4 linked regions of the Homo sapiens genome follow. The protein of the gene in region 2 interacts with the protein of the main gene of each other region in a pairwise test. Each region holds a gene or a part of one and is shown on either strand. Other genes may lie near its edges.

The links. Proteins that work in one complex are often made in the same cells at the same time.
Region 1: the proteins of COPG1 (region 2) and SACM1L interact in binary tests that used the Homo sapiens proteins (3 or more experiments, as listed by UniProt).
Region 3: the proteins of COPG1 (region 2) and SNCA interact in a two-hybrid assay, tested with the Homo sapiens proteins (one large-scale study listed by BioGRID).
Region 4: the proteins of COPG1 (region 2) and CFTR interact in binary tests that used the Homo sapiens proteins (3 or more experiments, as listed by UniProt).

Annotation. Positions count from the first base shown.
Region 1 is NC_000003.12:45,692,396-45,695,895, forward strand, and holds part of SACM1L (phosphatidylinositol-3-phosphatase SAC1), read left to right. Parts: intron 1-3,500.
Region 2 is NC_000003.12:129,248,278-129,252,405, forward strand, and holds the start of COPG1 (coatomer subunit gamma-1), read left to right. Parts: upstream 1-1,328; 5' UTR 1,329-1,432; coding exon 1,433-1,469; intron 1,470-2,404; coding exon 2,405-2,457; intron 2,458-4,003; coding exon 4,004-4,084; intron 4,085-4,128. UniProt on the Homo sapiens protein: The coatomer is a cytosolic protein complex that binds to dilysine motifs and reversibly associates with Golgi non-clathrin-coated vesicles, which further mediate biosynthetic protein transport from the ER, via the Golgi up to the trans Golgi network.
Region 3 is NC_000004.12:89,732,662-89,736,161, reverse strand, and holds part of SNCA (alpha-synuclein), read left to right. Parts: intron 1-3,500. UniProt on the Homo sapiens protein: Neuronal protein that plays several roles in synaptic activity such as regulation of synaptic vesicle trafficking and subsequent neurotransmitter release.
Region 4 is NC_000007.14:117,483,025-117,486,524, reverse strand, and holds part of CFTR (cystic fibrosis transmembrane conductance regulator), read right to left. Parts: intron 1-3,500. UniProt on the Homo sapiens protein: Epithelial ion channel that plays an important role in the regulation of epithelial ion and water transport and fluid homeostasis. Mediates the transport of chloride ions across the cell membrane.

The DNA of each region.
Region 1 (3,500 bases), about 84 Mb from region 2:
TCACTGCAGCCTCAGCCTCCCAGGCTCAAGTGATCCTCTCACCTCAGCCCCCAAAGCATCTGGGACTACAGGTGCACATCACCATGTCTGGCTGATTTTTTCTGTTTTTCAGTTTCGCCATGTTGCTGAAACTTGAACTCCTCGTCTTAAGTGATCCATGCACCCTGGCCTCCCAAAGTGCTGGAATTACTGGCATGAGCCACCATGCCTGGCCCAAAGAGAGTTTAGATGAAGTACTTAGTGTACCTCATAGGTACCTTCTTTGAGAAATGTTTTCTTTCCATGTCTTTTCCTTCACTGAGTTCTGGTAACAGTTTTTAAAGCCAAAAATGAAAAATTATTGTAACAGGGTTAGACACCAAATGTTTACATGATTTATGTATTCTGTCTCTTAGGATCAGTTTACAGTGCATTTACTTTCTCATGGACAAGAGGATGGAAAGCTAGAATGGTCAATCCATAGTACTGTTTGAACCACTCATTTTGTCACTTAGAAATGAAATCATTATGTACACCGTTATGTGACTCTTACTGACAGAGATACATTCTGAGAAATATGTTAGAAATATGTTAGGCAACTTCTTTGTACAAACATCAGAGTATAATTACACAAACCTAGATGGTACAGCCTACTACACACCTAGGCTATATGGAATAGCCAGTTGTTCCTAGGCTACAAACCTGTACAGCAGGTTACTGTACTGAATACTGTAGGCAGTTGCAACACAATGGTAAAGATTTGTGTATGTATACATACATAAACAAGAAAAGGTACAGTAAATATACGGTATTATAAGCTTATAGGACCACCATCATATGTGTAGTCTGTCGTTGACCAAAGCATTGTTACATGGCACATGGCTGTACTTTGTTTCTCCAACCAGTTTACACCTTAACATTTTCTTCTCTAGTCCTCCTCAGTACCTAACATAGAGCCTTGTGCAGAGCAGCTCCTCAGTGAATCAACTGAGTAAATGAAAGGAACTTTCCAGTATAGACCACGTACTAGCACTGCAAAAAGAACACAGTCTAGGGTAATTTGGAATGTATCGTTTTGAAGAAACACAGCTTAAAAGTCATTTCATGTATATTGTCTTCCCAGTGTCTCTGTGAGGTCATAGGTTGATAGGTATCCTGTCATTGTTGAAAACAGTCTCATAATTGCCCTTGGCCACAAAGTCAGATCATACAGCCAAGCCATGGTAGAGCTAGCCTTGGAATACGGCTGGTCCAGAGTCCAGTGATCTTTCCATTTCATTGCATTATCCATATGACCTTTTTTTCTCTTACCAGATTGCTCTCGCATTAGTCCTCAGACATGCCAGGTATTGAAATGAGTCACTTACAACCAAATATAGTTGACATGTCCATATTAATTTCCATATGTTTAATGTGGAAAACAGAATATTGATTTGCTCAGAATTTAAAATTCATACTTTTTAAACTTCCAGGCAGTTCTAAATATCCTGTTAGGCTCCATTTTTCTTTTTAAGCCATTTGTATAGGCATGGATAATGTCAGACAGTGATAAATTTGAAATTGCAAAATAATTAGACTGGAAATGTAATTTTTAAGAAGCTTATCTATCCCTGTATATAAGCTAAAATACCTTGGCAGTTCGGCGTAGGTGTCACATTTCCTTTGCAGGGAAATGACATCAAATGTGGTTTGGGCACTTCTTAGGCCCCTCAGACCTCAAGCTCATAATAACTTTCTAAAAGGTTCAGTGGAAAGTTAGAGGTGCAAAATTATTGGATACATTTAAAGCATTTTTTCTTCTTTTTTTTTCTTTTTCTTTTAAAAGGTCAGTTGAAACTAGGTGTAAGGCAGGGAATCCTTTAGTTACTGCATCAGGCTGCAGCATGCCTCTGAAGAGTACTGTTTCCTCAGGAAATTGCCATTTTTAAAAGAGTCTCATAACTGTGAGGTCATCAGTCAGGGCAGATATGATCCAACCTTGAAAACAGATGTAACCTAAGCTACCTTGTGATACAGACACATATAATCTGTTCAATATAATGAACATTCATATTATTCACAGAAGTCTCCCGGTGGAGGGAAGGGTGTAGGGCAGCTCAGATTATTCTCATGAGTTTTAGCACAGACAATATGGGGTTTGTATCCAAAGCATTAGTTGGCTGGGAGTTCAGGCTAGTTCAGGCTTACCTAGGCTCACGTGGCTAGCCTAGGTTAGTGCTAGGCTACATCAAATGACTTGGTATGCTTGTTTTAAGTGCGTATTCCAGGGCCCCACATTAGGCCTACTGAGTGAAAATCTCTGGGGATGAGCGGTGGAAATCTGCAAGTTTAACTAGCTATCCTGGTAGTTTTTATGCACTCTGAAATATTTTAGGGCTGGGCATACATAGCTGAGTTAGGACCAGAACATGCTGGTAGAAGAGAATTCTTTGGAAGATATGGGGCTCTGGTAGATTGTGCTGTGGATTAGAGCTTCAGATTAGGTGGAATTTGGACCTAGTCCTGTGAAGAAGTCTGGTTGAGAGAATGGGTTTTAGGGCATTCAGGGAATAGGATATAGGTGGGAACACAGAGTTTTGAGAAAGAGGATAGCATTAGAATGAGTCTTTCTAGAAACACCAACTGGTTTGGAATTGGGTTGTGCCCCTGGGGAGTCTGTGATGAACTTGAGCTATAGGAGAGGCAACCAGGGAGGGCTCAGTGAGGAGATACCCAAAGGGAGGATGAATGGGGGAGGTAGGAGCACCTTCTGCCTATGAGTGTAGTATGTGCAGGGGATCCTTCTTTACTAAGTTGTTTTCTTTTTGCTCACCAAACCTAGTAAAGTGTTGTGCCTCTGTCTTTTCAACCAGAGATGTATTAAATTTGATCATTAAGACCTTGATTTAATTCTTTTTTTTTTTTGAGATGGGGTCTCACTCTGTTGCCCAGGCTGGAGTGCAGTGGCGCAGTCTCGGCTCACCACAACCACCACCTCCCAGGTTCAAGTGATTCTTGTGCCTCAGCCTCCCTTGTAGCTGGGACTACAGGCATGCACCACCAGGCCCGGCTAATTTTTGTATTGTTAGTAGAGACAGAGTTTCACCATGTTGGCCAGGCTGGTCTTGATCTCCTGACCTCAAGTGATCCACCTGCCTCGGCCTCCCAAAGTGTTGGGATTACAGGCATGAGCCACTGCACCCAGCCAAATTCTTTACGTAAGATTTTTGAGGGAATATGTTCTTGCTACAGTTTTATGACATATCACTGTGGCTCCTATGCAAAATAGTGGTTTCATTATTTTTAAAAATTGTGGTAAAATAAAACATTAAATTTACCATCTCAACCATTTTTAAGTATACAGTTCAGGGGCAATAAGCACATTCATGTTGTACAACCGTTATCACCATCCATCACCAGAACCGTTTTCATCTTGCAAAAATAAACTCTGTACCCATTAAACAACTCCCCATTTCTGTATCCTCCCAGCCCCTGGCAACCACCGTTCTACTTTCTGTCTCTATAAATTTGACTTCTCTAGA
Region 2 (4,128 bases):
CTCCAGCTTTGCGGTCACCCTTTTCACCTGGGGCCTCTGCCTCAGCCTCCTGCCTCTCCTCTCCACAGCCCACTCCTTCTCCTGCCCACAGGCCTGCGGGCTTCCCCTCCCCAGGCAAGCTGGGGCCGTGTCGCAGCGCTTGGCCATCACGACTTTGCCATTGCCAATGCAATCTGGCTCACTGGCATGCACTGTGCTTACCTTAGCCTCAGGGTGTCCTGCATAGGTCCCCAGGAAGATAAACCCTGGGTGATGTGTCATTTTCCCCTTTCCGTTCCTTCCCACGCCCTTCCCCCCACCTCCCCGCGTAGGCAGCGCATCTAGTTGGCACTCCATAAATATCCAAAGTATTTACAAAATAACGTAGAAGTTCTATGCTGTTTAGTTAGATCTCTTAAGGTTGATAATGTACAAGGCAATTTGCATCAGGAGCAGACGAGATAGGGCCCGGCAGATATAAATTAAAAATGCAATTGCACGCATTCATTCAACGAGAACTCACTGAGCAACTACTATGTGCCAACATTATCCACTGCAGTGAATAAAAGACAAACAAACAAGCAAATAACAAAAAAAAAAACAAAAGAGCAAGAAAGTGGCCGGGTGCAGTGGCTCACCGCTGTAATCCCAGCACTTTGGAAGGTCGAGAAAGGAGGATCGCTTGAGGCCACGAGTTCAAGACCAGACTGGGCAACATCATAGTGAGACCTCGTCTCTACAAAAATTAAAAAATTAGTCGGGGGTGGTGCGCCCAGCTCTACTCGGGAGGCTGAGGTGGGAGGATCGCTTGAGCCCAGGAACTGTAGGCTGCAGTGAGCCAGGATCGCACAACTGCACCACAGCCTGGGCAGCAGAACGAGAAATAAATAAACAAATAAAAGCCAGAAAGTAAAAATAAAGTGTTAGATGGCGATTCGAGCTGAGGAGGAAATCAGGCAGGGGAAAGAATCTGAAAGCGAGGAGTGAGTGGCTGGCAAGGCTCCTTCGGAAGGTGGCAATAACAGTCATAGACCGGTCACATCAATTGGGTGTTTACTGCGGGCCAGTGTGTGCCACCAACCTCACACCCGAAAGCCACAAAGACTCACGCCACAACGCAACGAGGCAGGGGCTCCTCCTCCTCCCTTGGTATACGGAAAGAAGCGTAGGGAGCAGAGTTGGGATGCTAGTCAGTACCCCCCTGCACCTAGCCCTTGCCCCTCCGTCTGGCTTTCCCCACTCCCGCTCCGGCGGAGCTAAGGTTAACATTAGACGAGGCTGTGGCTACCGGAAAGAGCGCAGGCGCAGAGCGCGGAATGCGCCTGCGCAGAGCGCTGGGCGACGTGGCCAGTCGGGGCCCGGAAGTGGTCCCTGTAGAACCACTGTGGCACCGCTACTCCGTGCCGCGCCCGTCGAGCATTGCGTTGCTGCATTGCGCCCCACCGACTCCACTATGTTGAAGAAATTCGACAAGAAGGATGAGGAGTCAGGTGAGGGGGCCAGGCCTGGGTCTGAGGGAGGCCGGACCCCCACCCGCCGAGCTTTCCTTCTGGTTCTCTGTCCTGACCCGGAGGCTGAGGCCCAGTGAGGGGCAGGGGCTTGTGCCAGGGTCCACAGCTAGTCAGTGGCAGGCCTCGGAGAGCCCGAGCATGCGCGGCTGTCTCACTCTTGTAAGCTCGGACTGCAATTTTCTGGGTGACCTTGGGCGCGACAAACACCCCCCCCCCCAGGCCTCAATTTACCCATCTGTCAAAGGAGGGGACCATGCCGAATGTTCTCTTGTTACTTTCTTCGTCCAACCTCTTGGGATTCGCTGGGGCTACGTTGGTGCTGGCCAAACTGGGGTGTAACCTGCGGAGCCAGCGTCCTGTGACTGGGAACTCTGACCCCATCATTCATTTATTCAGCAAAGTATATTGAGCAGTTACTGTATGCCAGGTACTGTACGGTGTCCTGGATACTGCAACAGAGCAAGTGGGACACTCAGTGCCTGAGCTAGGAATATTAGAATGGTTGCACCCACGATGGAGGAGGCAGACATCAACCAGATAATCACACGTGTAATTATTTGCAAATGTGTCATCTGCTATGAAGGAACTAGTTACAACGAGATGGTGGTCCCTGGCACATAGGGACTTAGTTAATTACAAGTTATATAAATGAACACAAGACATGGCACCATGAGAAGCACAGGACTGTACCAGGGCTGCTGGGAGATTGTGAGTGGTTTGGGGTAGAGTGGAGCCCACCTGCTTGCAGGAGACTAGTAGGATCCCTAGACAGATTGTAGAGGCTTGATTGCCATTCCTGAGGAGTTTGAACTTTACTAGATTTCCTAGGAAGGGACATCTTCCCTTTACCTATGTCTGGGAGAGTTTTGAAGTTCAGAGTCACAACCTACCTTCTCCATTGTCCTTGACCGTAGGTGGAGGCTCCAACCCATTCCAGCACCTTGAGAAGAGTGCGGTACTCCAGGAGGCAAGTGACATTTGCTCCCCTCTAGCTTCCATCATAAATATTCACCACCAATGCAACTGAAATACCAACACATTCAAAGTGTTGTTTTAAAGAGCAACACGGGAGAAAACTTGTGCCTGGAAGTTTTCTGGAAGACAGGAAAACTTTGTTTCTGGAGAGAGTTAGTTATGCTTACTTCTTTTTTTTTTTTTTTTTTTTTTTTTTTCTGAGACAGAGTCTTGCTCTGTCGCTCAGGCTGGAGTGCAGTGGCGTGATCTCGGCTCACTGCAAGCTCCGCCTTCCAGGTTCACGCCATTCTCCTGCCTCAGCCTCCCAAGTAGCTGGGACTACAGACGCCCGCCACCACACCCGGCTAATTTTTTGTATTTTTAGTAGAGACGGGGTTTCACCGCGTTAGCCAGGACGGTCTTGATCTCCTGACCTCGTGATCCACCCGCCTCGGCCTCCCAAAGTGCTGGGATTACAGGCTTGAGCCACCGCGCCTGGCCTCTCTATTTAAACATTTAAAAAATTTCTCTATTTAAAGTTAATTCCAAAGCTAAGGAAACTGGTTTAAAACTATCACCTAAGCTAGACTGTGGCCATTATGCAGGTAGAGATTTTGCATGACTTGTTTATTTTTATTATATATATTTTTTATATATATATATATATGTATTTTTTTTTAGAAGGCGTCTCACTCTGTTGCTCAGGCTGGAGTGCAGTGGCACGATCTCGGCTCAACTGCAACCTCTGCCTCCTGGGTTCAAGCAATTTTTCTGTCTCAGCCTCCCAAGTAGCCGGGACTACAGGCGCACGCCACTATGCCTGGCTGATTTTTATATTTTTAGTAGAGATGAGGTTTCACGATGTTGGCCAGGCAGGAGAATGGTGTGAATCCTGACCTCTTGATCCTCCCGCCTCGGCCTCCCAAAGTGCTGGGATTATAAGCGTGAGCCACCGCGCCCGGCCACTTCTCTTTTTTTTTTTGAGATGGAGACTTGCTGGTGTCAGCCTGGGGTGGAGTGCAATGGCATGATCTTGGCTTGCTGCAACCTCCGCCTCCTGGGTTCCAGCAATTCTCCTGCCTCGGCCTCCCGAGTAGCTGAGATTACAGGTGCCCACCACCATGCCTGGCTAAGTTTTGTATTTTTAGTACAGACGGGGTTTCACCATGTTGGCCAGGCTGGTCTCGAACTGACCTCAGGTGATCCACCCGCCTCGGCCTCCCAAAGTGCTAGGATTACAGGTGTGAGCTACTGCGTCCAGCCGCTTCTTTCTTTATTGTTGTCGTTCATTGTTTCTGTTTCCAGTTAGCAGATGGTTGCTAAGTATCTGCTAGTCAATAGGTTAGCACATCCCTAACTAATATTTACACGAGAGTCTAAGAATAATTAGTAGTTGATTAAAGAAAAACAAACCCTTTCCTTATGAAAATAAGCTTGTTGCATACCCAGAAAGCCCTGTTTAGACAAGTCAGTTTACCCTGAGACTTCTCAGACATTGAATATACTTGAAGGGAAATGAACTAGGCTAGAAGGTAACATCTTTGGTCATTTCTTCTTAGGCCCGTGTATTTAATGAAACTCCCATCAACCCTCGGAAATGTGCCCACATCCTCACCAAGATTCTTTATCTCATAAACCAGGTAACAGGGTGAAGCTTGCGGGTAGGGAGAATGGTGCTGGGGGA
Region 3 (3,500 bases), on a different chromosome or scaffold from region 2:
GAACATGCCAATTTCTATGGCTTCTCATGTGACAGAATATACTTACTAGGATGCAATTAAATACTCCTCAGAGTATGTAAACAATAAATGTAATCATTACATTATTTTTATATTGTTCTTTCTTATGCATAATAGTAAGACTGAAAATATAGTGTTATTTCTGAAATATGCATATTGTTTTGCTTTTGATGATTAAATAACATTGTCCAAAGTTTTAGGTTTTTTGAAATCTTATATTTTTTAACAAAATATCTAGCCTTTCCAAAACAAGACCTCAATAATTCGTTTAAGACCCAGAGTTGTTCCTCTCCACATAGATCTCTTAAAAAGGCAGAGGATTTATGACCTCAAGAGAAATCAGAGTATCCAAAGTTTGCTTTAATTCAATGTTTTAAAAATAAAATTCCTTAGATTTTATCAAAAATTGAGATTAGTTTGATTTTGAATCAGATGCCCTTTGCTCCCCACCCCAAAATGGCATTATGAGCAGACTAGGAATTGATAATAGAAAATTGAACATATGAAATATATCTTTACCTTGCTTTTTAACAAGGTATTCATGTCTATCGCCTTCATTTTTAAGTGCATCAATAAAATACATGGTAATTCTCTTAGTGAAATATACTATCTACACTATGTACACACTCCCCTGTCTGAGGTAGAGAAGTAGAGAATATTCACATTTTTGAAACGTCTATGCTATTTTTATTTAAATACGAGTTCTGGGCTTGATTTCATTTTGGAACACGGGTGTGTGCTTAAGTTGAACCTTTTTTTCCTCTTAAGTCAAAGTTCTTTTTTAGTTTCTTCTTTTATCTTTTTGGCTACTATCTCTCTCCTTCATCCTCCTGGTGTGAGTTGTTGAGTGAAGGTATTAATTCCATTATTTGAGGCTAAGTGACATTGTTCAATAATGCAGCAAAACAATGGTTCTACCCAAAATATCTTCAAGTGTAAAAGCAGTGGGCAAAAGAGAAAGTGCGCTTCTGCTGCTTTGAATGTTTAAGGCTGTGAAAGTTGATCACACAAATTGGGTCATTCTTGTTATACCCAACTAAAACAATCAAGAAGCCTGGGAGGAAAAGCATTCAAGAAACATCACATTGCTCCAAAAGTGTAATTTTCTACAAGTCCGCATGCTGAGGCTGCCTGTTGTAACCTGGGACCAATTTTTTCTGTAACTGCTGAAAAAACTTGCTGCAGCTCTAGGACTAATTTTGCCCACCACTGTCACTCACCAATTGAAGCTTACTAGCTCCCCAGAACCTTTCTAGTGCCAATGAACTTTCTCAAAGAGCAGCGTGTATCATTTCTCTTTTTCAGAACACCTCCAACCTCCTCTTTGTTCTTTGGGTATACCAAAGACCAACCAGCCTTGAATTTCAATTTTTCTTCCCACATAAAAGTTTTAATTTAGAAATGTATCTCTACATTTCTAACTTTGACAAAGCATAGATACCAGATAATTGATGAAACCTTGCTATTTTAACGATCACCATGGATTACTTCCCAGTGTCTTCAGATAACCCTCAACATTTGCCAACATTTGATGGACTTCAAAATGAGCATATCTTTTTTAAAAAAAATTATTCACACTGACAGCAAGTACATTGGTATACTCTATATTAAATTATACCACAGGGTTTACAAACAATTGGTGATGTCGGGCAGTGGTTTCCAAGGAACATACTTAACAAGACACTCACAAGGCCCTACAAACCTGCATTTTTAACAAGGGCCCTAGATGATTCTAGAAGAGTGTGGTTTGGAAAGCAATTTTTGCCTTTATTATGTGTCATTTTAAATATATTTAAAATTAAAGTTATAAGTCATAGAATTGAATAAAGATAATTTCCTTACAGAAAGTATTACTAGGTATCTAAATACAATATGGTTCAAAACAGGAAATTTAAAAAGATTATGTAAATTCTGTAGTTGTATTCCTAAAGACAGTAGCTGAAATTTTTTCCTACTTCTCCTTGTATCACTTCCCTTTTCCTTCACTTTCACTTCCCTGGAATTGTACTTCCCAATAAGCTATTAGCAGTGAAGGAAGCTTCGTCTCATGATCTGTTTTATAGAGCACTTCAGCTGGGACGAGTACGAAATGATAATCAGTTATATCAGCTATTCAACCCTACAGGTTTATTTAAAAAGAACTTGAATAAGCTTTTTAGGGAGAAAGAGGTCAGTCTCAGCCATTTCTGTTTCCTAATATAGCTTTTAAGTCTTTCCTTATTAGCAATGAGGGTCATTCCATTGTAATTTTTTGATAACCATTTTTCTTTCTGTGTGTCAAATGCAGATATAAGATACTGAACTGAGTCTATTTCACTGTTCGTAAAACAATCCCATTTGAAAAAAAAAAGTCTACAGCTATTCCAGGGATAGGGCCTAGTAGAGAGAGAATAAAAGGTATTTTCTTACTATGTCTCTATATCCTACCCTGTAGGTTCTCTTATTAAGCATACAGGCATATACCAAAATCCAGACGTTTTTCTCATTTATTTTATTGCCCTAACATATTCTGGGTTAATATAATATCATAATGAAAATTTGAGAAAAAATTGATTTTTTCAAAAGTGTTTAACATTTGTTATATTGGTAGTTTTTTTTCTTGTTTGTGGTAAAAATAAATAGAAGGTGCACTTCACACCTTCAAGTATGATTATATTTTGAAAACAAGTCATGAATACTCATAAAATGCAAATTTTAATGTTCTTTTTTTGTTACAGCCAAACTATATTAGGCACAGTTGTAAATTGGAGTTGAAATTTAATATTTCTTTATAGATAACAATGTTTTTAGAAATAGGTTTATGAAACAGTAAATATACAGGTATAGGGATAAAATTGTGTCTGATGGTCATATGAAGTGTTTGTTGTTATATTCTCCTTGGAATAGCTGCCAAATATTTTAGTATGCTTAAAATCTACGAATGTGATAGAGTCAACAAATTTAGATCACATATTCAGAAAAACATAGTTAGAGAACTAACTATTGAAATGAGCATACAGCAGTCTTCCTTTATCTACAGGGATACATTCTGAAACCCCCACTAGGACACCTGAAATTGCGGATAGTAGCAAACCCTACATATACTGTTTTTTCCAATGCTTATGTACCTATGAAAAAGTTTAATTTATAAACTAGGCACAGTAAGAGATTAACAACAATAACTAATAACAAAAGAGAACAATTATAATAATATACTGTAATAAAAGTTATGTGGGTATGGTCTCGCTTTCTCTTTCCCTCTCTCTCTGTCTCTAAATATCTTAGTATTTTGGGGTTGCAATTGGTGGTGGGCAACTGAAACCATGGAAAACAAAACCACGGATAAAAGGAGACTACTGTATATACTTTTTAAAACTGATGAAATATTAAACTCATGTTTCTTCTATATCCCACCCATTTCCCCCACCCAAACCTAGATAGATATCTTATTTGATCTGTAAACATTTAATTAATTTGTAAAAGTTAAGAACTTTTTGAAGTAA
Region 4 (3,500 bases), on a different chromosome or scaffold from region 2:
GAATAACCTCCTTTAGGTGTGAATACAAAAGACACTTCCCCCAGCAAGCCTTCCTTGACCAGCCTTAGACTGGGTTAAGTGCCCCAGTTGAGTACTTCAATGAAGCCCTCGAGAAAGCTGGGTTTCAGATAATTTGTTCCATAAAGGCAGCAACAATTTCCTTCTTGGCCACCTCTACCTTCTTAACGTCTCACATAGAATACAGAATATGAATGAGGTCATCTTCCAGGTTACCCAGAATCATGACCTACAAAGGAAGTACTGCTGTATCTCAGCTCCTTGGAGCAAGCTATGGGAGAGTTTTCTGGCTATATCCAGGCATAGCTTCAGGCCTGAGTAGTCCTAATAATCCTACGGACCTAGCAAAAATCTTCATTTCCTTACCCCATGAGCAAGAAATTAGCAAGCATGCTATCCTACAAAGGCTAAGGCAGAAGGGACACAAGAAAACTTCGATGGAATAATTGTTCTAAGCATTAAAAATCTGCCCACAGTCCCACTTGCTTTGACCCCTTTTTATCAAAATGATGCCAGCACTGCAGGACTGTTGAATGTCATCGATCTACAATAGACACAGGTCTCTAGGGTTGATCACCATGAACTCATTAACATCACAAAAAAATCTTTATTAAATTGTTCCACGGAAGAGTCTTGAAATGGTCTGAATATCATACTAAACAAATTAGAAAAGGCCCTGACATCCAGAGCTTTACAATTTGGAATCATAATTTATGTCAAAAGATAATAATAAGTTAACAGAGCTGCACAGAAAAATAGCAAAGTTGACAAGCCTTGCAACTTGAATACAGCTGTGAAAAACTCTGAAAAAAGATTTTTCAGAGCTCTGTAGGAATGTAATTCTCTACATCAAGCAATCTAAGAGTAAATTAAATTTTTACAAGCTTCTTGCTAAAAGAAGCCTAAGCTCTTTGCTGACACAATGCCCTACAGTAAAGCCGTAAAGCCACTCTGTAATGCTAATTTCACACTGAAACAACTATGTGGTAAATTGATTCTAGAGCTCTGAAGAGAACCAACAGAAATAGCAATGTTTTCCTCCATGATAATGCACTTGACATATTTGTAAATTAATCTTTCTACAAGATCTCCAAACAACTTGATCTTTATCATAGTCTGTTTTCCCCTTTTGACCTCATTGCATCTCAGAGGTTTTTCTCCAGGAAGATGCCCTACACAGATGCCTCAGGATCAAAATTGCCAAAATTGCTGCTGAGTCAGAGATGTTTTTAACGTTTTGACAACCAACACATAACTGCATGCTAAATAGTTAACACCCTTCCTGATGGTTTTGCAATACTATACTTATATTGTAGCTCTATCACACTGAAATTATAGGCTCTTGTGAAATGACACTAGCAATAATAATGCATTTTATAGCAGTACTCACTCAAGGACCTTTAAACAAGTGTTAACATTTATGTATTGAATATTATTACACTAAGTTCCACTCCCTCCCATAACACATAAATGGAAAACTGGAAAACCGTGATTTCCCTAGTGTAACAGTTAGCTCTGAGGGATATTTTGACTGTCACATCAAACATAAAATATTGATGAAGTAGCTAAGAAAAATAGATTCCACTTCTCTCTTTAGCAAGGAATTAAATATTAAAACTACACTATTCCTTATAAGTATATAAGAATATTACTTGAATCAAGTGATTAATAATTTAACTAGCATATAAAAAACTATAGGAATAAACTTCAAAACAAAGGAGAACTTTTTAAAATTTGCAAAATTAAAAGAAACAATTATATAATTATATATACAAAGATATTTTACATATACAAAGATATTTTATATATAAATAAATGTAATTATAATTTTTGTCATATATCAGGTACAGGAGGTACTTTTAGAACTCTGAGAGTTAAGCTAATCAAAATTAATACAAAATTAACACAGATTCCCAGCTGAAAAATCTCAACTGTGTAATAACAAAACATGGTCAGCAAAAGGATAAATAGAAAAGACTATTGAGGGACTGGTGTAGAAAGTCAACATTTGTTAGTGTTCAGACAACATTGTTCAAGACAGAAGGGCTCCTATCCCAGAGGTGGGCCCCTCCAATTCCTATAGGATGTAAAGCCAAGAGAGAATATGGAAACCCTGGGCTGTCCTCATTGATGGCATTTGCCCATGGACTGACTAAATGGAGTCATGGTAATCGGGAATGCTTGGCAGTTGTATATCACAATATAATTGTTCAACACATATTGGCCTTTGTTTTATGCATCTATTTTATTTTGATTTGGATAACCTAAGGTTTTTCTGATAGACAAACCTGAGATAATGTGTATGTATTGATCAGACCTAGACTAAACCCTTGTTTGGGTAGCCAACTGGTCTTCCTTGGCAACACTTTTACAAACACCCTCAACAAACTGCAAAAATATTTATGGCTTAGCCATAATTTTAGCTTTCCTCACAAATTGCAAACATGTAAATAAAATGTAAATACAAAATCATCATGATGAATTTTTAATAGTGTATCATAATTTATATAACCAAATAAGTGTGGTCCCATTCAAAATGGTCATCTTTATAAATCTTTCATAGTATAATTTTAATTATACTTCCATTGCTCAAAGCACTTATATTTCTCTTCATTAAGCACTGTCTTTAGGCTGACAGGGTGAGGTGGCTTACGCCTGTAATCCCAGCACTTTGGGAGACTGAGTGGGAGGATAACTTGAGGCCAGGAGCTCCAAGAGCAGCCTGGGCAACATAGTGAGATACTGTCTCTATATAACTTAAAAAAAAAAAAAGTTAGCCAGGCATGGTGGTACACACCTGTACACCTGAAGACCCAGCTACTCGTGAGGCAAGATGGAAGGCTCACTTGAGCCCAGGAGGTGGAGGTTGCAGTGAGTTATGATTGTGTCACTGCACTCTAGCCTGGGCAACAGAGTGAGACTCTGTCTTTTAAAAACAAACAAACAAAAGAATTGTCTTTAAAGTTTGCAATGCATTTTTTTTTAATGAAAACACCTAAAATTAGGTAGCACTTGGCTGTTAACAAAGGAAATTATGATGAAAAATCTTTATATTTTCAGAGTGAATTTGATTTTGTGATACAGTCAAAAGTCACTTGGAAGCAAGTCCAAGAGACCAGTCTGGGTAATATAATTTTTAATCTAAAGCAAGCTATGAATATAAAACAATAACAATAAAATAATGTGGCTAATATATACTTATGAGAAGAAATTTATGTATTATTTAGAAAGGCAATTTCATAATAAGAGACCCAAAATTATTTTGATCAAAGGCAAATGTTTAGAATAGGAGTGTGGTTTTTATTAGATAGCTATTTTGAACCACCATACCTATTCTGATATATAAATTCAGGTGTATTTGTTTGTTTTAAAATCTCTCATTACTTTGTGTTTAATAATTACAAAAGTATCTCAAATTATCTTACTGTTAAACTCGAGACTTAGACTATGTGATTCTTTGCTGAATTTCCACCTTAGATCCT